Homo sapiens: one gene and its partners. The protein of the gene in region 1 interacts with the protein of each later gene in a biochemical or structural test. Each region holds a gene or a part of one and is shown in the gene's direction. Other genes may lie near its edges.

What was found.
Region 2: the proteins of NUP153 (region 1) and XPO1 form a complex in vitro, tested with the Homo sapiens proteins (one study listed by BioGRID).
Region 3: the proteins of NUP153 (region 1) and NXF1 form a complex in vitro, tested with the Homo sapiens proteins (2 studies listed by BioGRID and IntAct).

What each region holds. Positions count from the first base shown.
Region 1 is NC_000006.12:17,696,556-17,704,060, reverse strand, and holds part of NUP153 (nuclear pore complex protein Nup153), read left to right. Parts: intron 1-7,505. UniProt on the Homo sapiens protein: Component of the nuclear pore complex (NPC), a complex required for the trafficking across the nuclear envelope. Functions as a scaffolding element in the nuclear phase of the NPC essential for normal nucleocytoplasmic transport of proteins and mRNAs.
Region 2 is NC_000002.12:61,479,148-61,486,652, reverse strand, and holds part of XPO1 (exportin-1), read left to right. Parts: intron 1-690; coding exon 691-885; intron 886-2,547; coding exon 2,548-2,716; exon of another isoform or gene 2,717-3,561; coding exon 3,562-3,696; exon of another isoform or gene 3,697-4,026; intron 4,027-4,113; coding exon 4,114-4,273; intron 4,274-5,371; coding exon 5,372-5,468; intron 5,469-6,069; exon of another isoform or gene 6,070-6,328; intron 6,329-7,505. UniProt on the Homo sapiens protein: Mediates the nuclear export of cellular proteins (cargos) bearing a leucine-rich nuclear export signal (NES) and of RNAs.
Region 3 is NC_000011.10:62,795,232-62,802,736, reverse strand, and holds part of NXF1 (nuclear RNA export factor 1), read left to right. Parts: intron 1-476; coding exon 477-560; intron 561-690; coding exon 691-795; intron 796-917; coding exon 918-998; intron 999-1,105; coding exon 1,106-1,175; intron 1,176-1,319; coding exon 1,320-1,408; intron 1,409-1,535; coding exon 1,536-1,643; intron 1,644-2,250; coding exon 2,251-2,360; coding exon of another isoform or gene 2,361-2,415; exon of another isoform or gene 2,416-4,161; coding exon 4,162-4,198; intron 4,199-5,350; coding exon 5,351-5,419; intron 5,420-5,498; coding exon 5,499-5,554; intron 5,555-6,169; coding exon 6,170-6,277; intron 6,278-6,391; coding exon 6,392-6,450; intron 6,451-6,555; coding exon 6,556-6,671; intron 6,672-6,793; coding exon 6,794-6,836; intron 6,837-7,505.

The sequences.
Region 1 (7,505 bases):
TCGGCCTCCCGAAGTGCTGGGATTACAGGCGTGAGCCACCGCGCCCGGCCCCTGATCACAGCTTAAATGTACTTAGATAAAATAAAAATCTAATTTTGGGGAGATGATGTCTTAACAGCATAACACCTATGATCCAAGGTGTCTTAGAGTTGATACGACTTCAGGCTGTGTAGTTTTGTTTTAAATCTTGATAATTTATCATTGCCCCTTATCTAAAATACTTTTGCTTCTTGTCCTATTTAATTAAAAAAGAAAACATATTTTAGCTTTTGAATTGGGAAGTAAAGGTATTTAGGGGTTTCTTGATCAACACTGTAGGTGCTATTTAATATTGGCAGAAACTACCACTACCCAAGGAAAGTATTCAGGTATATTCAAAAGAATACTCTCCTTTTTTTTTTTTTTAATCTTAAAAATAAGGACTTTCTTTAGTCCTTATTGAGGCTTTGGTGGACATAGGGTCTACCCACTTGCTGTTTATTATCCTAGGCTGTCAACTGGATGTTTTGCAGAAGCTGCTGAGTCATCATGAAGCAAGCTTCATGACATGGCATGTTTTATACTAATGTTATTTGATTAAGTGTCCAAGGGTTTCTGGGCAAAAATTAAGCTTTTGGTAGTATAGCAGAAAGTTGGAGTAAGAAACAATGAGAGGTCTGGCGCTGTTAGTTAATGGATGTTTGCCAGTGCCTGTCAGGGCAACTTGGCTAGTACAGTCACCCAGTACCTATGACTTCTGCATGTGTTCATTTGACTTGTAATTTCCTGTTTTGACTTCTGGGTTTAGCTCTCCTGGGAAATGCTGTAAGTTTACTACTTTCCTTCTTTAACTTATTTTTTTTTTAATTTTTTTTTTTTTTTTTGAGATGGAGTCTCGTTCTGTGGCCCAGGCTGGAGTGCAGTGGCTCGATCTTGGCTCACTGCAACCTTTGCCTCCTGGGTTCATTCCATTCTCTTGCCTCAGCCTCCCAAGTAGTTGGGATTACAGGCATGCGCCACCACGCCCGGCTAATTTTTGTATTTTTAGAGACGGGATTTCGCCATGTTGGTCAGGCTGGTCTCAAACTCCTGACCTCAGGTGATCCACCCGCCACAGCCTCCCAAAAGTGCTGGTATTACAGGCGTGAGCCACCGCGCCCGGCCCAAATTCTGATCTTTAAAATGTCATCTTGCATGAAGTTGTGCAGACAAATTCATTGTCTTGCTCAAATAACTGAAGAGTTATAAGGGTAATAACTCTTAAGAATTGTAGAAGCAAATATGAAGAACAGCCCTGAATAATGCAAGCTGATCATTCTTACTTGCCTTCTCCCCTACCCCTTTACCTTTTTGCCTAGATGCATTTAGGAAATGGTGTCATTTTTCTTTTCTCCTTTCTTTTTTTGAGACGGAGTTTTGCATCTGTTGCCCAGGCTGGAGTGCAATGGTGCAATCTCGGCTCAGTGCAACCTCTGCCTCCTGGGTTCAAGCTATTCTCCTGCCTCAGCCTCCCGAGTAGCTGGCATTACAGGCATGCGCCACCACAAACGGCTGATTTTTTTTGTTTTGTTTTTGAGACAGAGTCTCGCTCTGTCACCCAGGCTGGAGTGCAGTGGCACGATCTCTGCTCACTGCAAGCTCTGCCTCCCGGGTTCACGCCATTCTTCTGCCTCAGCCTCCCGAGTAGCTGGGACTACAGGTGCCTTGCCACCACGTCCGGCTAATTTTTTGTATTTTTAGCAGAGACGGGGTTTCACCGTGTTAGCCAGGATGTTCTCGATCTCCTGACCTTGTGATCCACCCGCCTCGGCCTCCCAAAGTGCTGGTATTACAGGCATGAGCTACCTCGCCCGGCCAGAAATGGTGTCATTTTTCTAGTTGAGAGTGAATAGGTAACTGAAGAGAATGTGGTTAGTTCCTGTCTTCCTTTTCCATTTCCTTTTTGTTCAGATTGTCAGGCACAGAAAGTCAGCTCTTTGGAGAGGTCAGGCTGCTTGCTTTTCTTAGTAACCACTACAAAAAACTTGAGTCCATGGGCAAACCAGAACCTACTGCCACCTCCTGGTGAGAGGAAACCACTTATTTTTGCCCTTTTTGTCCCGGGATGGGGGTGGGGTGGGGTGGTGTGGGTAGTATGCTTCAGACATTTATCTTCTGGTTTAGAGCTAAGGGACTCCGCCTTTAATCCTCCTAGATATAGTTTGTCTTACAAGTCAGTTCCTGCATTTAGCTTTTTTCCCCCCCCCCCCGAGACAGAGTCTTGCTCTGTTGCCCAGGCTGGAGTGCAGTGGCACAATCTTGGCTCACTGCAACTTCTGCCTCCCGAGTTCAAGCAGCTCTCCTGCCTCAGCTCTTGAGTAGCTGGGATTACAGGCGCAGGCCACCACGCCTAGCTAATTTTTGTATTTTTTTTTTTTTTTTGAGATGGAGTCTTGTTCTGTCACCCAGGCTGGAGTGCAATGGTGCGACCTCGGCTCACTGCAACCTCCGCCTCCTGGGTTCAAGCAGTTCTCTGCCTCAGCCTCCCGAGTAGCTGGGACTACAGGCACGTGCCACCACGCCCAGCTAATTTTTGTATTTTTAGTAGAGACAGGGTTTCACCATCTTGGCCAAGCTGTTCTTGAACTCCTGACTTCCTGATCCACCTGCCTTGACCTCCCAAAGTGCTGGGATTATGGGTGTGAGCTACCACACTCGGCCTAATTTTTGTATTTTTAATAGAGACTGGGTTTCACCAAGTTGGCCAGGCTGGTCTCGAACTCCTCACTGCGTGGTCTGGCCTCCTCGGCCTCTCAAAGTGCTGGGATTATAAGCGTGAGCCACTGCACCTGGCGCATTTAGCTTTTTTTTTTTTTTTAGACAGAGTTTCGCTCTTGTTGCCCAGGCTGGAGTGCAACGGCACCATCTTGGCTCACTGCAACCTCCACCTCCTGGGTTCAAGCAACTCTCCTGCTTCAGCCTCCCAAGTAGCTGGAATTACAGGCATGCGCCACCACTCCCAGCTAATTTTGTATTTTTAGTAGAGATGGGGTTTCTCCATGTTGATCAGGCTGGTCTCGAACTCCCGACCTCAAGTGATCCATCCACCTGCCTTGGCCTCCCGCGAAGTGCTGGGATTACAGGCATGAGCCACTGCTTAGCTATTTTTAAAAAGGGGAAGGAAACCTCTTTATCAGTAGCTTAGATCAGGGGTCAGTAAACTTTTTCTGAAAGGGACACAGATAGTGAATTTTTAGGCTTTGCTGTGGTAAATTGTCCTTTGTTTTGTTTTTAAAAGTCCTTTAGCAAATGTAAAAACCATTCTTAGCTTGTATGAAAAAAGACCAAGGTCTGAATTTGGCCCAGCCCACAGGTCATTGTTTGCTATACCATGGTTTATATGATAGTATTGTTTTTATTTGTTTTGGTAGCTTCTTTGTGATACTCTGTCCCAAATAAGTATGTCCTGCCTGGTATCTGATAGCTGGAGTGTTCTCAGATTTGAAAAGGAGGGATATTTAGAGGTCGAATATTTAAATCATTCCAGAAGTCACCAAGTTTTTAACTTTTATTTTATCCTTATTTGCTTTATCCTAGATGCTTAATATAATCAGTGGGAATAGAAATGGAAACATTGATAGGATTGGATAGTTGATAGGATAGTTGTTAGGAAAACATTGTAGTGTAATGGAGTCAGCCTGAGTTTGGATCCCTGTTCTGCCTGGACTTGGACAAGTTAATTTACTCATCTGTAAAGTGAAAATTGTTGTGGAGGTTAAATGGGACAAGTGAAGATTTTAGAACAGGACCTGGCATATGTATATAGGTAAGGAGTTATTAAAAATTGAGTCCTTATTATATATATGCAATTGAAATTTGAAATTAAATAGAACTGTTTGATTTAGGATCTTTTTTTTTGTGGGAGACCACAGTTTTATTATTACTCAAATTAGTCTCCTGATTTAGGGTCTTCATATTGTCTCTGAATTTTCCTGCTTCTTATCAGAAGTTTTGTTTCCTTTAGGTGACTAAATTCAATACTTGCATGTATTAAATTGTTTAATGCAAAGTAGGTGTTTTGTTTGTGATGAGAGGTTTTGTGTGGTATTATATTAATTTACTTAATTTTTCTAATAAGTGACAAAAAAGTCCACTTGCTGTATCCATTTTCTGGGAAGTCCCTGACAAGGCAGATATCTTAGTTTGAAGTAAAATAAAAATTGTAGTCTGATGTCACTAATTAAAACTGTTTACTTTTCTTTTTTTTTGAGACAGAATCTAGCTCTGTCACCCAGGCTGGAGTGCCATGCTGTGATCTTGGCTCACTGCAGTCTCTGCCTCCCAGGCTCAAGGGATTCTCCTGCTTCAGCCTCCTGAGTAACTGGGGTTACAGGTGTGTGCCACCACGCCTGGCTATTTTTGTATTTTTAGTAGACACGGGGTTTCACCATGTTGGTGTGGTGGTCTCAAACTTCTGACCTCAAGTGATCTGCCCTCCTCGGCTTCCCAAAGTGCTGGGATTACAGGCGTGAGCCACCTTGCCCAGCCAAAACCATTTTCATTAGGCACAGAGTATTGCAAAGATTGTAATTATCTTGTATTTTCTTTTTTTTTTTTTTTTGAGACGAGTCTCGCCCTGTCACCCAGGCTGAAGTGCAATGGTGCGATTTCGGCTCACTGCAACCTCCGCCTGCCAGGTTCAAGCAATTCTCCTGCCTCAGCCTCTGGAGTAGCACGCACCATTATTCCTGGCTAAGTTTTTATATCTTTAGTAGGGACGGGGTTTCACCATGTTGGCCAGGCTGGTCTTGAAGTCCTGACCTTGTGATCTGCCTGCCTCAGATTCCCAAAGTGTTGGGATTACAGGCTTGAGCCACCACGCCCAGCTAGCTTGTATTTAAAAAAAAAAAAAATTATTTGTAGCTATTTAGCTTATCTTCATGGTTGTAATATATTTTTAAAAGATTCTTCTGTGTTGGGAAGTTTGGTTTCAAGTCTTGCTGACACATACCATTTACTGTCAGAAACAGGATGATAGGATGCCTTTTCTATCTATAGATATTTCAGTTTGCTTGATTTTGCATATCTTTTTCTTAGTGTGATTTAAGAAACAAACTCTTACTCCCAATTTTCAAACATGTTACCTGAGAAAAAGTGTGATAGTATCTTGTAGGTAACTTTTAGTGAGTTTAACTACTGTGAGCTTTTATTGAGTTTTCTTTTTTTTTTTTTAAGACAGTGTCACTCTGTTGCCCAGGCTGGAGTGCAATGGCACGATCTTGGCTCACTGCAACCTCCGCCCCGCTCTGGGATTCAAGTGATTCTCCTGCTTCAGGCTCCCAGCTCTTTTTTTTTTTTTTTTTTTGAGACAGAGTCTTGCTCTGTCGCCCAAGCTGGAGTGTAGTGGCGCGATCTCGGCTCACTGCAAGCTCTGCCTCCCGGGTTCACGCCATTCTCCTGCCTCAGCCTCCCAAGTAGCTGGGACTACAGGTGCCCACCACCACGCCCCGCTAATTTTTTGTATTCTTAGTAGAGATGGGGTTTCACCATGTTAGCCGGGATGGTCTCAATCTCCTGACCTTGTGATCCGCCCACCTCGGCCTCCCAAAGTGCTGGGGTTACAGGCGTGAGCCACCACGCCCGGCTGCTCCCAGCTAATTTTTGTATTTTTTCGGTAGAGACAGGGTTTCGCCATATTCCCCAGGCTGGTCTCCAACTCCTGGACTGAAGCAGAACCCCTGCCTTGGCCTCCAAAGCACTGAGATTACAGGCGTGAGCCACGGTGCTTGGACCTGAATCTAGTTTCAATAATCTGAATTTAACATCCAAATCTAAGACATTATTGGTTGTATTTTATAAGCCTATGCCATTCAGCAGCGAAGTTTACCCTATCCAATCAGTCCAAGTCCTCTAGCCATTTAAAGTACTTTTCTAGCTGAAGAATTAAAAACCTGCTCCCTGGGAGAATAAGATTCCAGAACCTTAAAACTGATGATGGACTGCATTTGATATTTATAGTTAAAGATCCAGTGAAACTATTTGAGAAAGGAGATTTTATAATCTGAACACTGCTAAGGATAATGTGAAGAAAAGGGAGTTGAACAGAACTGAAGTCAAGAAAACTAGTAGGAAGAAAAGAGCTTTGTATAGAAGGAAGGAAGGATATATAGGAATGACAAGGAGTTGGCCATACTGAAAAGATGCCTCTGGTTATTCCTGTGAAAAGGTTTATAAGAAAAGAATGTCGTTAATTACAAGTGAGTTCTGAGTTAGTGTTATAGAATAGCCTTCCCCCACCCCAGCTGTTTCTGAGTTAGTGTTATAGAATAGCCTTCCCCCACCCCAGCTGTTTCTGAGTTAGTGTTATAGAGTAGCCTGCCCCCACCCCAGCTGCCTTTCATTAATCCTTTTTTTTGAGATGGAGTCTCGCTCAGTCGCCCAGGCTGGAGTGCAGTGATGTGATCTCGGCTCACTGCAACCTCTGCCTCCTGGGTTCAAGCAATTCTCCCTCCCTCAGCCTCTCAAGTAGCTGGGATTACAGGTGCCTGCCACCACGCCTGGCTAATTTTTGCATTTTTTAATGGAGACAGGGTTTCGCCATGTTGGCCAGGCTTGTCTTGAACTCCTGACCTCAGGTGACCTGTCTGCCTCAGCCTCCCAAAGTGCTGGGATTACAGGCATGAGCCACTGCGCCCAGCTCATTAATCCTTCAACTCAGGTTAAATATAATTTGAAAAGCTAATGTATTCACAATACCTTATACGTTGAATGTTCCTGATATGTATGTAGTATTGAATTCTAATCCCCAGATTGAATTTTTAATTAGTCTAAATCTCAGTGGCATTTTTGACATGTTTTGCCAAATGAAGAACCCTTCTTTCTTGGAGAGAGAATACCCAGTGGATTTAGCCAGTTCACATTCTAAAATTCACTCCTTTAATCCTTGAACTTAAATTTATTATTTATGATTATGAAGTGTGGACTTTGCTTTAGGGCCACAGAGTATTTTTTAAGATTAATTTTTTTTTTTTTGAGACGGAGTCTTGCTCTGTAGCCCAGGCTGGAGTGCAGTGGTGTGATCTGGGCTCACTGCAACCTCCGTCTCCCAGGTTCAAGTGATTCTCCTGCCTCAGCCTCCTGGGTAGCTGGGATTACAGGCGGACACCACCTGCCAGCTAATTTTTGTAGTTTTAGTAGAAATGGTATTTCACCATGTTGGTCAGGCTGGTCTCAAACTCCTGACCTCAAGTGATCTGCCCACCTCGGCCTCCCAATGTGCTGGGATTACAGACGTAAGCTACTGCACCTGGCTGTTTTTTAAGATTTTATTTATTTGTTTTATTTTTTTGAGATGGAGTCTTGCTCTGTGGCCCAGGTTGGAGTGCAGTGGCGCCATCTTGGCTCACTGCAAGCTCCGCCTGCCGGGTTCACGCCATTCTCCTGCCTCAGCCTCCCGAGGAGCTGGGACTACAGGCATCCACCACCACACCCAGCTAATTTTTTATATTTTTAATAGAGACGGGGTTTCACCGTGTTAGCCAGGATGG
Region 2 (7,505 bases), on another chromosome or scaffold:
ACACCCCGTCTCTACTAAAAATATAAAAAATTAGCTGGGCGTGGTGGCAGGTGCCTGTACTCCCAGCTACTCGATAGGCTGAGGCAGGAGAATGGCGTGAACCTGGAGGCGGAGCTTGCAGTGAGCCAAGATGGCACCACTGCACTCCAGCCTGGGCGACAGAGCAAGACTCCGTCTCAAAAATAAAAAGACAGTATTGAGGGCTCGCTTGCTGCCATCTTACATATACAGTATACGTAGAATCCTGATTCTGCCACCTAAGTTGGAGACACCCACTGAATTTTGAGCCTCACTTTTCTTATTGTGAGAGTTTTGTAGCTGGGCATGGTGCTATACCTATAGTCCCAGCTACTCAGGAGACTGAGGCACAAGAATTGCTTGAACCTGGGAGGTGGAGGTTGCAGTGAGCAGAGATTTGCCACTGCACTCTGGTCTGAGTGACAGTGAGACTGTCTCAAAAAAAAAAAGTCTTGAATGACAGTGTGTCCATGAGACTTCCCAACCCATTGTGATTTCCTGCTTTCTTTTGCTAAAAACTGTTTTGACGTAGGAAACCCTAATACAAACACAAGATTTTCCTGTTTTCAGTAGATGATCATGCTACATCTCATAGACAGGAATAACCTTGTTGTTTAAAATAGTCACCATGTACCTAAATTAAAACATAACTTTTTTTTCCCTCCCCAACAGGTCGCTGAAAATTTTGTTCCCCCTCTGTTGGATGCAGTTCTCATTGATTATCAGAGAAATGTCCCAGCTGCTAGAGAACCAGAAGTGCTTAGTACTATGGCCATAATTGTCAACAAGTTAGGGGGACATATAACAGCTGAAATACCTCAAATATTTGATGCTGTTTTTGAATGCACATTGAATATGATAAATAAGGTGTGTAATATTTCAGTTATGTAAGGGGGAAATTCTGCAGGATAGCCTTAATTCTTGAAAGCTAAAGTATGTCTGTGGATATAACATAATTTTAATGCCATGGAGTTTAAATATTTAAACTTGTATATTAGGGAAATACTTTCTTGGTTTTCAAGAACTTACTTCCCAGGAGTTTGAAACCAACCTGGGCAATATAGTGAGACTTCATCTCTACAAAAAGTTCAAAAAGTAACCAGTCATGGTGGCATGTGCCGGTAGTCCCAACTACTCGAAAGGCTGAAGTGGGGGGGGGGGTCACTTGAGCCTGGGAGTTCAAGATGGCAGTGAGCTGAGATTGCGCCACTGCACTCCAAGAAGAAGAATTTACTACACAGAATCTTGATTGGTAAAAAGTAAATATGGAAAACAGATTTTAGCATTCACATGGTATGTAGCATTTATTGAAACCTCATAGGTCGGGGCATCCTTTTATGAACGTAGTTGTATTAATTGGTTTGAATAAATGAGAAAGTAAGTCTGCATGTTTCAATTATAAAAGTGTAGTATATGCTTATAAGAAACTGAAAAATGTGTTAACAAGAGAAAATAGGCTGGCCATGGTGGCTTACACCTGTAATCCCAGCACTTCAGAAGGCCAAGGCGGGCGGATGACCTGAGGTCGGGAGTTCAAGACCAGCCTGCCTAACGTGGCAAAACCCCATCTCTATTAAAAATACAAAAATGGCCAGGCGTGGTGGCTCAACACCTGTAATCCCAACACTTTGAGAGGCCGAGGCCGGTGGATCACCTGAGGTCAGGATTTCAAGACCAGCCTGACCAACATGGTGAAACCCCATCTCTACTCAAAGATTAGGCTGGGTGCCGTGGCTCACGCTTGTAATCCCAGCACTTTGGGAGGCCGAGGTGGGCAGATCACGAGGTCAGGAGATGGAGACCATGGTGAAACCCTGTCTCTACTAAAAATACAAAAAATTATCCGGGTGTGGTGGTGGGCGCCTGTAGTCCCAGCTACTCGGAGAGGCTGAGGCAGGAGAATGGCATGAACCCGGGAGGCGGAGCTTGCAGTGAGCCAAGATCGCGCCACGCACTCCAGCCTGGGTGACAGAGCAAGACTCTGTCTAAAGAAAAAAAATTAGCTGGGCATGGTGCCGCATGCCTGTAGTCCCAGCTACTCGGGAGGCTGAGGCAGGAGAATCTCTTGAACCCAGGAGGCGGAGGTTGCAGTCAGCTGAGATTGCGCCACTGCACTACAGCCTGGGTGACAGAGTGAGACTGTTTAAAAAGAAAAAAGAGATAAAAGATACGTTAAGTGGACACATTTACACGGTAACTTAAATTTTTTTGTAATCTGTAGTGGTGATTTCAAATTAAAAACAAAAGTGATAGTAGTAGTCTTATGGTAATAATGGTTTAGATGAGTTCTCTATTAAAAAGGTTGTCTTTCTCCTTCAATTTGATAACTCATGTGCGTAACGGGACAGTTTCATTTTCCGTGAGAGGTGGATTGTATTTTACTTGGGTTTACCTTTCAGGAGGCATTCTATCTTCTGTGGTTTATTGAAAACTCCAAATATTTATACTGGATTAAGCCTTGCTTTTCCCCTCCTGTCTAGCACAACAAAGACACTGAAACATTATTTTGTTTCCACCACTTATTTTTAGGACTTTGAAGAATATCCTGAACATAGAACGAACTTTTTCTTACTACTTCAGGCTGTCAATTCTCATTGTTTCCCAGCATTCCTTGCTATTCCACCTACACAGTTTAAACTTGTTTTGGATTCCATCATTTGGGCTTTCAAACATACTATGAGGAATGTCGCAGATACGGGTAAATAAAAGATGTTCTTTTATTCATTTGCCTGCCAATCCAAAAATACAAATATAGTTAATTGTACATAGGAAGGTATTACTTGTTCAGAGTTTTGAGTGTGTGAATTACATATATGAACATCTGAGAAAATCCTATAAGCAGTTTAATCAACTGTTCCACTCCACTCCAAGTGAGTCCATAGGCAGAATTGAGTTATGGGGAGAGCGGCCTAGTAATAATTGGTTTGCGTAATACAAAGTTCTACTGGGTAGTGATGTTGTAGAAGTTCATATAGAATCAGCTGAGCTTTCAGAAATGGTGAAAGGGTGGTAATAGTCATAACTTAGATTGTAATTTTTTTCCCATAGGCTTTTAAAAAATATTCATGAGGTTCTTTTTTTATTTCAATAGTTTTTGGGGAACAGGTGGTTTTTGGTTACATGAATAAGTTCTTCAGTGGTGATTTCTGAGATTTTGGTGCACCTGTCATGTGAGCAGTATGAACTCTACTTTATGTGTAGTCTTATCCCTCATGTGTATGAACTCCACCTTATGTGTAGTCTTATCCCTCACCCACTCCTGCCCTTCCCCACAAGTCCCCAAAGTCCATTATATGATCTTTATGCCTTTACATCTTCACAGTTTAGCTCTCACACAACTTATTATAATTTATAAGTAAGCCAGCATTGGATATAGTTGTATTCCATTATTAATTTAAGAAACCTTATGCAAGTAATTATTAGTCATCATCCCAAAAAAAAGGGAGAACAGGGTTAGATTCAGAATACTTTGATAAGAGCTAAATACTATCATGAGTGCTGTCAGTCTGTAGTAACTTTCCATTGGTATTCTATGTCTTTTAGGCTTACAGATACTTTTTACACTCTTACAAAATGTTGCACAAGAAGAAGCTGCAGCTCAGAGTTTTTATCAAACTTATTTTTGTGATATTCTCCAGCATATCTTTTCTGTTGTGACAGACACTTCACATACTGCTGGTAAGAATTTAATACGATTTAAATGTTAAGTGCCAGCTGGGCACAGGGCCTCACGCCTATAATCCCAGCACTTTGGGAGGTCGAGGCGGGGAGATTATGAGGTCAGGAGTTCGAGAACAGCCTGGCCACCATGGTGAAACTGTCTGTACTAAAAATACCATAAAAAAATAAAAGATACAATAAAAATACTGGGCATGGTGGCATGTGATTGCAATCCCACCTATTCGGGAGGCTGAGGCAGGAGAATGGCTTGGACCGAGGAGGCAGAGGTTGCAGTGAACTAAGATTGCGCCACGGCATTCCAGCTTGGGTGACAGAGCGAGACTCCGTCTAAAAAAAAAAAACAAAACAAAAAAAAACGCTAAGATCTATAGTTATATTACATTTTGGAGTTAATAATTTTCTTCTTATCAACAGGTTTAACAATGCATGCATCAATTCTTGCATATATGTTTAATTTGGTTGAAGAAGGAAAAATAAGTACATCATTAAATCCTGGAAATCCAGTTAACAACCAAATCTTTCTTCAGGAATATGTGGCTAATCTCCTTAAGTCGGCCTTCCCTCACCTACAAGAGTAAATATACCTTTTAATAAACGTAGAATGTTCCTGGTCGGGCACAGTGGCTCACACCTGTAATCCCAGCACTTTGGGAAGCCTAAGGTGGGAGGATTGCTTGGGCCCAAAAGTTGGAGACCAACCTAGACAACAAAACAAGATCCCGTCTCTACAAAAAAAAAAGTAGTCAGAAGTGGTATGCATCTGTAGGACCAGCTGTTGGAGAGGCTGAGGCGAGAGGGTTGTTTGCATCCTGGAGTTTAAGACTGCAGTGAGCTATGATCGCACCACTGTACACCAGCCTGGGTGATAGAGTGAGACCCTGCCTCTTTAAAAAAGCAAAAAAAAAAAAAAAAAAAAAAAGGCCACGCACGGTGGCTCATGACTGTAATCCCAACACTTTGGGAGGCTGAGGTGGGTGAATCACAAGGTCAGGAGTTCAAGACCAGCCTGGCCAAGATGGTGAAACCCCGTTTCTACTAAAAATACAAAAAATTAGTTGGGCATGGTGGTGGGTGCCTGAAATCCCAGCTACTTGGGAGGCTGAGGGGGAGAACTGCTTGAACCCAGGAGGCAGAGGTTGCAGTGAGCCGAGATTGTGCCACTGCACTCCAGTGTGGGTGACAGAGCAAGACTGTCTCAAAAAATAAAAAGGCTGGGCACGGTGGCAAACGCCTGTAATCCAAGCACTTTGGGAGGCCTAGGCGGGCAGATTACCTGAGGTCAGGAGTTTGAGATTTGCCTGACCAACATGGAGAAACCCTGTCTCTACTAAAAATACAAATTAGCCGGGCATGGTGGTGCATGCCTGTAATCCCAGCTACTTGGGAGGCTGAGGCAGGAGAATAGCTTCAGAGGTTGCGGTGAGCCGCGATTGTGCGATTGTACTCCAACCTGGTAAACGAGCAAAACTTTGTCTCAAAAATTAAAAAAAAATTCTTGATTAAAAAAAAAAAACATTATTGGGACGCTGAGGCAGGAGAATGTCTTGAACCCGGGAGGCAGAGATTACAGTGAGCAGAGATCATGCCACTGTACTCCAGCCTGGTGACAGAGCAATACTCTGTCTCGGGGGAAAAATAAATCATTATTTAATCATTGTGTTTTGATTTGCAGTGCTCAAGTAAAGCTCTTTGTGACAGGGCTTTTCAGCTTAAATCAAGATATTCCTGCTTTCAAGGAACATTTAAGAGATTTCCTAGTTCAAATAAAGGTATGTATTTATTTGCTCTTGCAGAAATATTAGGGGTAGATGTGACCACTTTTATGTTACATTGTAGAATTTTTATCACTTGATTTGTCATGCCAAATAAATGGGGTTTCAAGATAATACGTTTACACAATCTCTGTAATCAAAAAACCTGAGACTGGTAATACAGTGAAAAACTAAAGTCCAATAAGGATAGATATGTTTGAGATGTTATTCGGATAAACTTATTACTAATGTAATTCATTTTAGGTAGTCTTAAATGTATAATGGAATATTGGGTAAGAAAAACGTTGGTAGTTCTTTTTATAATTTTATACCAATTTTGTTAGTTGAGGGAACTTGTGAAAGTTACTAGATAGAATGTCTTTCTTCTGCTGTTATACAGTGCTTTATTCATACTTTTGGGAAGGGTTTTTCTTTGAACATCTTGCTTTAAAGAAATTTGGAAGTACTGTGAAACCCTAAGTAGTTGATGAATAGTTTATCCATGATTGTTGAATAAGAATTAGTCTCTTAGCTCTTAAATATTTTCTCCAAAATACAAAGGTTTTTTTTTTTTACTGTAAAAATATTAGCCAATTTTTAAAAAACTAATGAAAGTTACCTAGGCTGGGCGCAGTTGCTCATGCCTGTAATCCCAGCACTTTGGGAGGCCAAGGTGGGTGGGTCACCTGATGTCGGGAGTTTGAGACTAGCACGGCCAACATGGTGAAACCCCCGTCTCTACTAATAATACAAAAATTAGCCAGGCGTGGTGGCGCACAGCTGTATTCGCAGCTACTTGAGAGGCTGAGGCAAGAGAATTGCTTGAACCCACGAGGCAAAGGTTGCGGTGAGCCGAGATCACGTCATTGCACTCCAACCTGGGTGACAAGAGTGAAACTTCATCTCAAAAAAAAAAAAAAAAAGTTAACTGATAGCTACGAAGTCAATGATAATATAACTAAACTTAATTTAATGACAGTTATTAATTAGCCTTAGGAGAAACATCTTTCTTGGTATCTTGGCATATGAAGAATTTTTAGCTGGGCACAGTGGCTCACACCTGTAATCCCAGCACTTTGGGAGGCCGAGGCAGACAGATCAGTTGAGGTCAGGAGTTCAGGATCAGCCCGGCCAACATGGTGAAACCTCATCTCTACTAAAAATACAAAAATTAGCCAGGTCTGGTGGCAGGTGCCTGTAGTCCCAGCTACTCGGGAGGCAGAGGCAGGAGAATCACTTGAACCCAGGAGGCAGAGGTTTCAGTGAGCTGAGATCATAACACTGCACGCCAGCCTGGGCGACAGAGCAAGACTGCCTCTCAAAAGAAAAGAGAAAAAAGTGTCTGGGTGCAGTGGCTCATGCCTGTAATCCTAGCACTTTGGGAGGCCGAGACAGGTGGATTGTCTGAGCTTGGGAGTTTGAGATCAGCCTGGGCAACATGGTGAAACTACGTCTCTAGTAAAAATACAAAAAATGAGCCAGATGTGGTGGTGCCTGTAATCCCAGCTGCTGGGGAGGCTGAGGCAGGAGAATTGCTTGCATCTTGGAGGAAGAGGTTGAGATAATGTGCTGGGGCTACAGAACAAGACTCTATCACAAAGAGAACAAAATTTGTGTGAATACATAGTAGGTGTATATACTTAGGGGATGGGATGCATGAGATACTTCGGTAGAAGCATACAATGCATAATAATCACATTGAAGACTATTTACTGTAAGGTATCACACCATTTTTTTTGTTTTTTTTGGGGGGGCACAGTCTCGCTTTTATCACCCAGGCTGGAGAGCAGTGGCGTGATCTTGGCTCACTGCAACCTCCGCCATGCAGGTTCAAGTGATTCTCCTGCCTCAGCCTCCCAAGTAGCTGGGATTACAGGCGCCTGTGCCACCATGCATGGCTAATTTTAGTAATGACAGGGTTTCACCATGTTGGCCAGGGTGGTCTCCTGACATCAAGTATTCTTCCCGTCTCTGCCTCCCAAAGTTGGGATTACAGGCGTGAGCCACCATGCCGGGGCCCATGATTCTTTTGTAATCTTCCCCCCCACCAGTTAA
Region 3 (7,505 bases), on another chromosome or scaffold:
GGCTGGGTACAGTGGCTCATGCCTGTAATCCCAGCACTTTGAGAGGCCGAGGTGGAGGATCACTTGAGGCTGGGAGTTCAAGACCAGTCTGGGAAATACAGCAAGACCCCTTCTCTACAGAAAATTTTAAAATTAGCCGGGCATGGTAGTACATGCCTGTAGTCCTAGCTACTCCAGAAAGCTGAGACAGGAGGATCGCTTGAGCCTAGGAAATGAAGGCTGCAGTGAGCTATGATCGCACCACTGCACTCCAGCCTGAGTGACAGAGTGAGGCCCTGTTACTAAGAAAAAATAGTAAGTGTAAGTAGACAGAAAGGAGTTAAAGAATCTATGTGTATCTCAAGTAGAAAACCTAGTACTGGTCCTTTCTTTAGATAGTCTTTAAAAGTTTGGTAGAAGGTATAAAAGGCATTGTATTGGGTCTGCTATTCAGCCTTACTTATCATTCCCTTCTTTTCTCTTTCTCTCATTTCTAGATTCCTTATGGCAGAAAGTATGACAAGGCATGGCTCCTGAGCATGATTCAGAGCAAGTGCAGTGTGCCCTTCACCCCTATTGAGGTAAGACAAGGCCTGAGTGGCTGGCTGGCCAGGCACCAGGGATGGTGAAGGGGCAAGCTGGACTCCCAGCGTAATGCCCCTCCCCAAGGGCTCTGGACTCCCAGTGTAATGCTCCTGTTTCCTCTTGTAGTTTCACTATGAGAATACACGGGCCCAGTTCTTCGTTGAAGACGCCAGTACTGCCTCTGCATTGAAGGCTGTCAACTATAAGATTTTGGATCGGGAGAACCGAAGGGTGTGTTTAAAGGGCCTGGCTTGGCTGGAGGTGGAGGTTGGTGCTCAGAGCAGGGACTGGGTCTTGTTCTTGCGGCTTAGGCTTCCCTAGAGTTTTCTGTGCCCTCTGTGTCTTCCCTCCAGATATCTATCATCATCAACTCTTCTGCTCCACCCCACACTATACTGAATGAACTGAAGCCAGAACAAGTAGAACAGCTAAAGGTGAGGCAGGCTCAAATTAGATGTTTCCAACCCAGTCTTACTACTTCTCACACCCCCACCCCCCACACACAAACCCAGTGACCACTAAACCCTTCTTTTTCCTCTAGCTGATCATGAGCAAACGATACGATGGCTCCCAACAAGCCCTTGACCTCAAAGGCCTCCGTTCAGACCCAGGTATGGTTGACAGCAGTAGTTCTCAGATAGGTGGTGATAAGGTGGGATCTGTCAGGGAGGGAAAGTTTGAGGATGTTTTACTGCTAATGCTGGCATGGGCAAACCCTCTCAGTCTTCCCTTTCCTTCCCTTCTGCTTCCTGAAGATTTGGTGGCCCAGAACATTGACGTTGTCCTGAATCGCAGAAGCTGTATGGCAGCTACCCTGAGGATCATTGAAGAGAACATCCCTGAGGTAAGGCCTTTGGCCCAGTATTAGGCATGAGGAAGCAGGGTGTGTTAGATAGGAAGTGGCTGGAGGGCAGATTCGTCTCTGATCCACTTGCTGGTGGTGCCTCCTCTAAACTCTTCTCTCCTCACAGCTATTGTCCTTGAACTTGAGCAACAACAGGCTGTACAGGCTGGATGACATGTCTAGCATTGTTCAGAAGGCACCCAACCTGAAGATCCTAAACCTTTCTGGAAATGAAGTGAGAATTGATAGCTCGGCTATATTTTTGAAGGGGTGGGTAGAGGGTGTAGAGAGTTTGTCCAGTGATGGCAAGAGGCAAGAGAGAGAACTCAGGCCAGATGTGCTGGTTTGCAACTCTAATCCTAACACTTTGGGAGGCCAAGGCAGGAGGATCACTTAAGGCTAGGAGTTTGCACGCCTCTAGTCCAAGCTGCCCCAGGGGGCTGAGGTGGGAGGATTGCTTGAGCTCAGGAGTTCAAGGCTGCAGTGAGTTATGATTGTGCCGTTGCATTCTAGCCTGAGCAACCTGTCTCAAAAAAATTTTTTTAATTTAAAAAATAAATTAGTCGAGCATGATGTCACATGCCTGTAGTCCTAGCTACCCAGGAGTCTGAGGTGGGAGGATCTCTTGAGTCCAGGAGTTTGAGGCTGCAGTGAACTATGATCATGCCACGGCACTGAACTTGGGTGACAGAGTGAGACCCTGTCCCAAAAAAAAAAAAAAAAGAAAAAATTTTAAAAGATTAGAAAAGATCTCAGAGCTAAGCGTAGGGACTGGGGGTATGGGGAGCCAGCTGGCTGTCTTCACCAGGGTCTCCTCCCTTTGTTCCTTCCACCCTTTGCAGTTGAAGTCTGAGCGGGAATTGGACAAGATAAAGGGGCTGAAGCTAGAAGAGCTCTGGCTCGATGGAAACTCCCTGTGTGACACCTTCCGAGACCAGTCCACCTACATCAGGTCAGTTGTAGCCTGTGTCTCCCCTCCTGGGGACCTTCACCCCCTGGGAGGCTGAGCTAATGCATCCTGACCAGGGCCCGTCTGCGGAGATGTGCAGCCCTGAGCTGGAACCACCTGTCCTTTGAGAGGATCGCGTGCTCCCCACTTTGGTCTGTCTGTGTCTTCCAGCTTTGTCCTGAGATGTTCTCTCTTCTCTTCTGACTTGACTATCTGTTTGCTGGGTCTGTGGCCTTTCTCTTTCTTCCTGAACACAACCTTTTCTAGAATCTCCCTACCCTGTTGTTCCAGGAAAGGCATCTCCCCTTTCTACTCTAACCAGAGGGTATCTTGTACATACCCTATAGATGGGGTTGCCTTGTGCCAAGAGCCTGGTGTCCATGGGTTGAGGAAGCCCTCCCTACCTGGGACTTCCTACTGAGATGGGCCTTCCCTCCTTTGTACTGTGATGGCCCCTCTTGCCCTTGCGCCAAGAGGGACCCTTTTCTCAGGATCCACTTGCCCAGGGCTGTTGCTGTCCATGCTGAGGTTGAGGCCTCCTAGGGGCTGGTGGCATGCAATCTGTCTCTCTTGCCCAGTGCTATGAGCTGGGCTCTCCCTGAAGAAGAAACCTGGGTTCCCCAAGATGTGACCAGAGCTGGGGCCCCGCCAGCAGGCGAGGGAATCCCAAGGCAGGTGCTGGGCGTGGAGGCCACGGGGGCATAGGCTACCAAGGAGACAGAGAACTGACCCCCTCGGGGGCGCTGCCTCTCCCTCACTCACACACTGCACGTCACCCTGTTTGGCCCCGGTGGATGGCTGGTTAGCCAGAGACGGGTAAGATTCCTCAGGGAAGGAACAACCTAAGACAGGCACAGTCGCAGAGGGGCCATCAGGAGAGAACTTGGGGGCAACAGAGGTGGGGCATGGACCCTCACCCCCACAATCCTACAGGGGCCTGAACCCTCACACCTTCTGAGGGAGGTCTCCTGCCCCCATGGCTGCTTTGCTTCCCACGCCCAGTTCAGATCGGGACCCAGGTAGCAGACAGAGACCTGGCCAACAGCAAGTGCCCACTCACCACAGCAAGGATTTGTTTCTCATTTCTACCTTGGACCACAGGGATGGGGCAGCTGAAAGAAAGGGCTGTGTCAGGGTGTCTTTCTCCCTTTTCTCCCTCATTTTTCTAGATGCTTTTTTGCCTTGTAGTTCTTTCTCTTTTTCTTTGCTTTCTCTTTCCTTTTTCTGTCTGTCTCCTATACCTCCCCATCTCTCCCTTGCCCCTGCCCCATCTTGCCTTTTTCTCTTTTTCCTCCTTTTCCTTTCTTATTCCTTTGCCTCTCCTCTTCCTGAGCCCCACCTGCTCATCTCCCTGCCCCAACATCCTGTGCCATCCCTGTGGTGTGTTTGGGTCTTGGCCAAAGCCAGACCTGGCAGAACTGATGGATACCTGGTGAGGCAGCGGAGCCCCTGGGCTCCCACCCCATTCCCTCCTCCCGGGGCTGCACAGGTGAGTAGGTGGAAGGTAAGGGGGGCAGGGAGGGGAAAGAGGTCCTGGGCTTAAAGCCTGGGCTTGGAGTACTGCTCCTTGACACTCAGGGTCAGGCAGAGAGAAAAGAGACAGCCTTCAAGGCAGTCCATGTCTGGGTGCCCCGGGTCAGGTGGGGAGTGGGGGCCATTTTTCCCTGAGCACAGGCTGGGAGGGAGTGGAGGGATGAGCAGGATGGGATGGGCTGTCCCTCGGGTTTGGTATATTTGCTCCTAGAGCAGCCCAGGAGGCACGGTGGCTCTGAAGCATCACTCACTTCTGTCCCGTTCTTGACAGCGCCATTCGCGAACGATTTCCCAAGTTACTACGCCTGGTAAGTCCATAATTTTTTCATTCTAACAAGCACAGCATCTCTCACTCACAAGGATTCCTGGATAGGTTTCTTTTTCTTTTTCTTTTTCTTTTTTTTTTTTTTATTTGAGACGGAGTTTCACTCGTCGCCCAGGCTGGAGTGCAACAGCATGATTTCAGCTCACCGCAACCTCTGCCTCCCAGGTTCAAGCGATTCTCCTGCCTCAGCCTCCTGAGCCCAAGTAGCTGGGATTACAGGCATGTGCTACCACACCTGGCTAATTTTTGTATTTTTAGTAGAGACAGGGTTTCACCATGTTCGCCAGGCTGGCCTTGAATTCCTGACCTCAGGTGATCCACCTACCTCGGCCTCCCAAAGTGCTGGGATTACAGACGTGAGCCACTCGCACCAGGCCCTTTTTTTTTTTTTTTTTGGATGGAGTCTTGCTCTGTTACCCAGAGTGCAGTGGTGCAATCTTGACTCACTGCACCGTTTGCCTCCTGGGTTCAAGTGATTCTCCTGCCTCAGCCTCCTGAGTAGCTGGGATTACAGGCATGTGCCACAATGCCCGGCTAATTTCTTTGTGTATTTTTAGTAGAGATGGGGGTTTCATCTTGTTGGCCAGGATGGTCTTGAACTCCTGACCTCAACTAATCCATCCACCTTGGCCTCCCAGTGTGCTGGGATTACAGGTGTGAGCCACTGCGCCCAGCCTGGATCCCTGGATACTTTTCATGATGCGTTTACACTTGACTTCTGACCCTTCTCTCTTAGTTCTTCAGTCTACTTATGCACCCAGCCTTTTTCTCTCTGGTTTAAACTGTCAACTTTCTTTTTTGTTTGTTTTGTTTTTTGAGACAGGGTCTGGCTCTGTCATCCAGGCTGGAGTGCAGTGGCACAATCGTAGCTTACTGCAACCTTCGCCTGCCAGGCTCAAGTGATCCTCCCACTTCAGCCTCCCAAGTAGCTAGGACTCCAGGCACGCACCACCATGCCCAGCTAATTTTTGTATTTTTTTTGGTAGAGATGGGTTTTGCCACGTTGTCCAGCCAGGCTGGTCTCAAACTCCTGAGCTCAAGCCATCTGCCTGCCTCGGCCTCCCAAAGTTCTGGGATCACAGGTGTGAGCCACTGGGCCCAGTCTACACTGTCAACTTTTACTTCCTTTCCACAGGATGGCCATGAGCTACCCCCACCAATTGCCTTTGATGTTGAAGCCCCCACGACGTTACCGCCCTGCAAGGTAGGAAGCATGGACAGAGTAAGAACTTGTGTGTGGAGAGAATACTGCTTCCATGTTCCTAATACCTGTTTGATTTCAGGGAAGCTATTTTGGAACAGAAAACTTGAAGAGTCTGGTCTTGCACTTCCTGCAACAGTAAGTATCCCAGGGTCCCCCCTCCCCACCCCGAGGTTGAGGGGGAATGGTGGGCAGACCCAGGCACACATCAATCTTTTTGTTTTGTTTTTTGTTTTGTTTTTTTTTTTTTTTTTGGACAGTGTCTCACTGTGTCACCCAGGCTGGAGTGCAATGGTGTGATCTTGGCTCACTGCAACCTCTGCCTCCCAGGGTTCAAGTGATTCTCCTGCCTCAGCCTCCCCAGTAGCTGGGACTACAGGTGTGTGCCACTGCACCTGGCTAATTTTTGTATTTTTCGTACAGATGGGATTTCACTATGTTGGCCAGGCTGGTCTCCAACTCCTGACCTCATGATCCACCTGCCTCTTCCTCCCAAAGTGTTGGGATTAGAGGCGTGAGCCACCGCACCTAGCCATTTTTTTTGTATTTTTAGTAGAGACAGGGTTTCGCCATGTTGCCCAGGCTGGTCTTGAACTCCTGGGCTCAAGCTATTCACCCATCTCAGCCTCCCAAAGTGCTGGGATTACAGGCATGAGCTTCCATGCCCGGCCACAACTCACTCTTGGGAGCTACTGGGTCCTTGTATGGCTGTAGACCACAGAGCCCATACTTTCTTTTTTGTTTTTCCCATAGGTACTATGCAATTTACGACTCTGGAGACCGACAAGGGCTCCTGGATGCCTACCATGATGGGGCCTGCTGTTCCCTGAGCATTCCTTTCATTCCTCAGAACCCTGCCCGGTTAGTATCACATCCCAGAATCTGCCCGGGACCACTGGGTTTCCCAGCAGATACAGGGCACACCTGCTGGCAGCACTGCTCTGAACACCACGTCCATTCCTTTTATTCCCCCAGAAGCAGCTTAGCCGAGTATTTCAAGGATAGCAGAAATGTGAAGAAGCTTAAAGACCCTAGTAAGTGTGTGATACGAACAAAATATGGGAAAAGGGCATGGGAAGGAATCAGTCAGAACTCAGGAGTGTGTGGCAGCACCACTGAGCTTTCTCCTCTACCCACAGCCTTGCGGTTCCGGCTGCTGAAGCACACGCGTCTCAACGTTGTTGCCTTCCTCAATGAGTTGCCCAAAACCCAGCACGACGTCAATTCCTTCGTGGTAGACATAAGCGCCCAGACAGTAAGCTCCTGCTTGCGCCTGACAGAAGCCTAGAATTGGGGTGGGGGTGGCATTTAATAGGCAAGGGGGGGCACTCAGGCTCTGAGAAGTGTACATTGTACCTGATGCTGCTTCTCTTTCAGAGCACATTGCTGTGTTTTTCTGTCAATGGAGTCTTCAAGGAAGGTAAGAATCTTTAGAGTCCCGAGTTTGTAGCGTGGTCCCACCCCCAGCTGGAATTTTCCTCAGCACTCTTAGCTTCCCAGCTACTTTCTCTCCCATTTTCTTTTTGAGCTCCTTCTCCCATTCTGCCCCCAAGCCGTCTTGGCTTGGCCTACCTCTCCACCTGTCCTGTCTGGATGTGGGAAAAGCCTGGGGATTAGGAGGACTTTGGAGTCAGGCAGTTCTTAGTTTCCATCCTAGTTTTGGTTGTGCGGGGCTGTGGACAAGTAACATTACCTCTAAGACAGATTCTTTATTTGTAAGATGGGGTTAGTAATAGCCGTCTCATAGTGGTGCTATAGGAAGTAAACTGAAGTGACTTACAAAGTGCTTGGCCTGGGGCCTGGCATACAGATGCTATCAGTGGATTAGTAGTTATTACTTTTTTTTGAGATGGAGTCACACTCTATCACCAGGCTGGAGTGCAGTGGCGCAATCTTGGCTCACTGCAACCTCCGTCTCCTGGGTTCAAGTGGTTCTCCTGCTTCAGCCTCCCGAGTAGCTGGGACTACAGGTGCGCACTACCACGCCCAGCTAATTTTTGTATTTTTAGTAGAGAAGGGGTTTCGCCATGTTGGACAGGATGGTCTCGATCTCTTGACCTCGTGATCTGCCCACCTCAGCCTCCCAAAG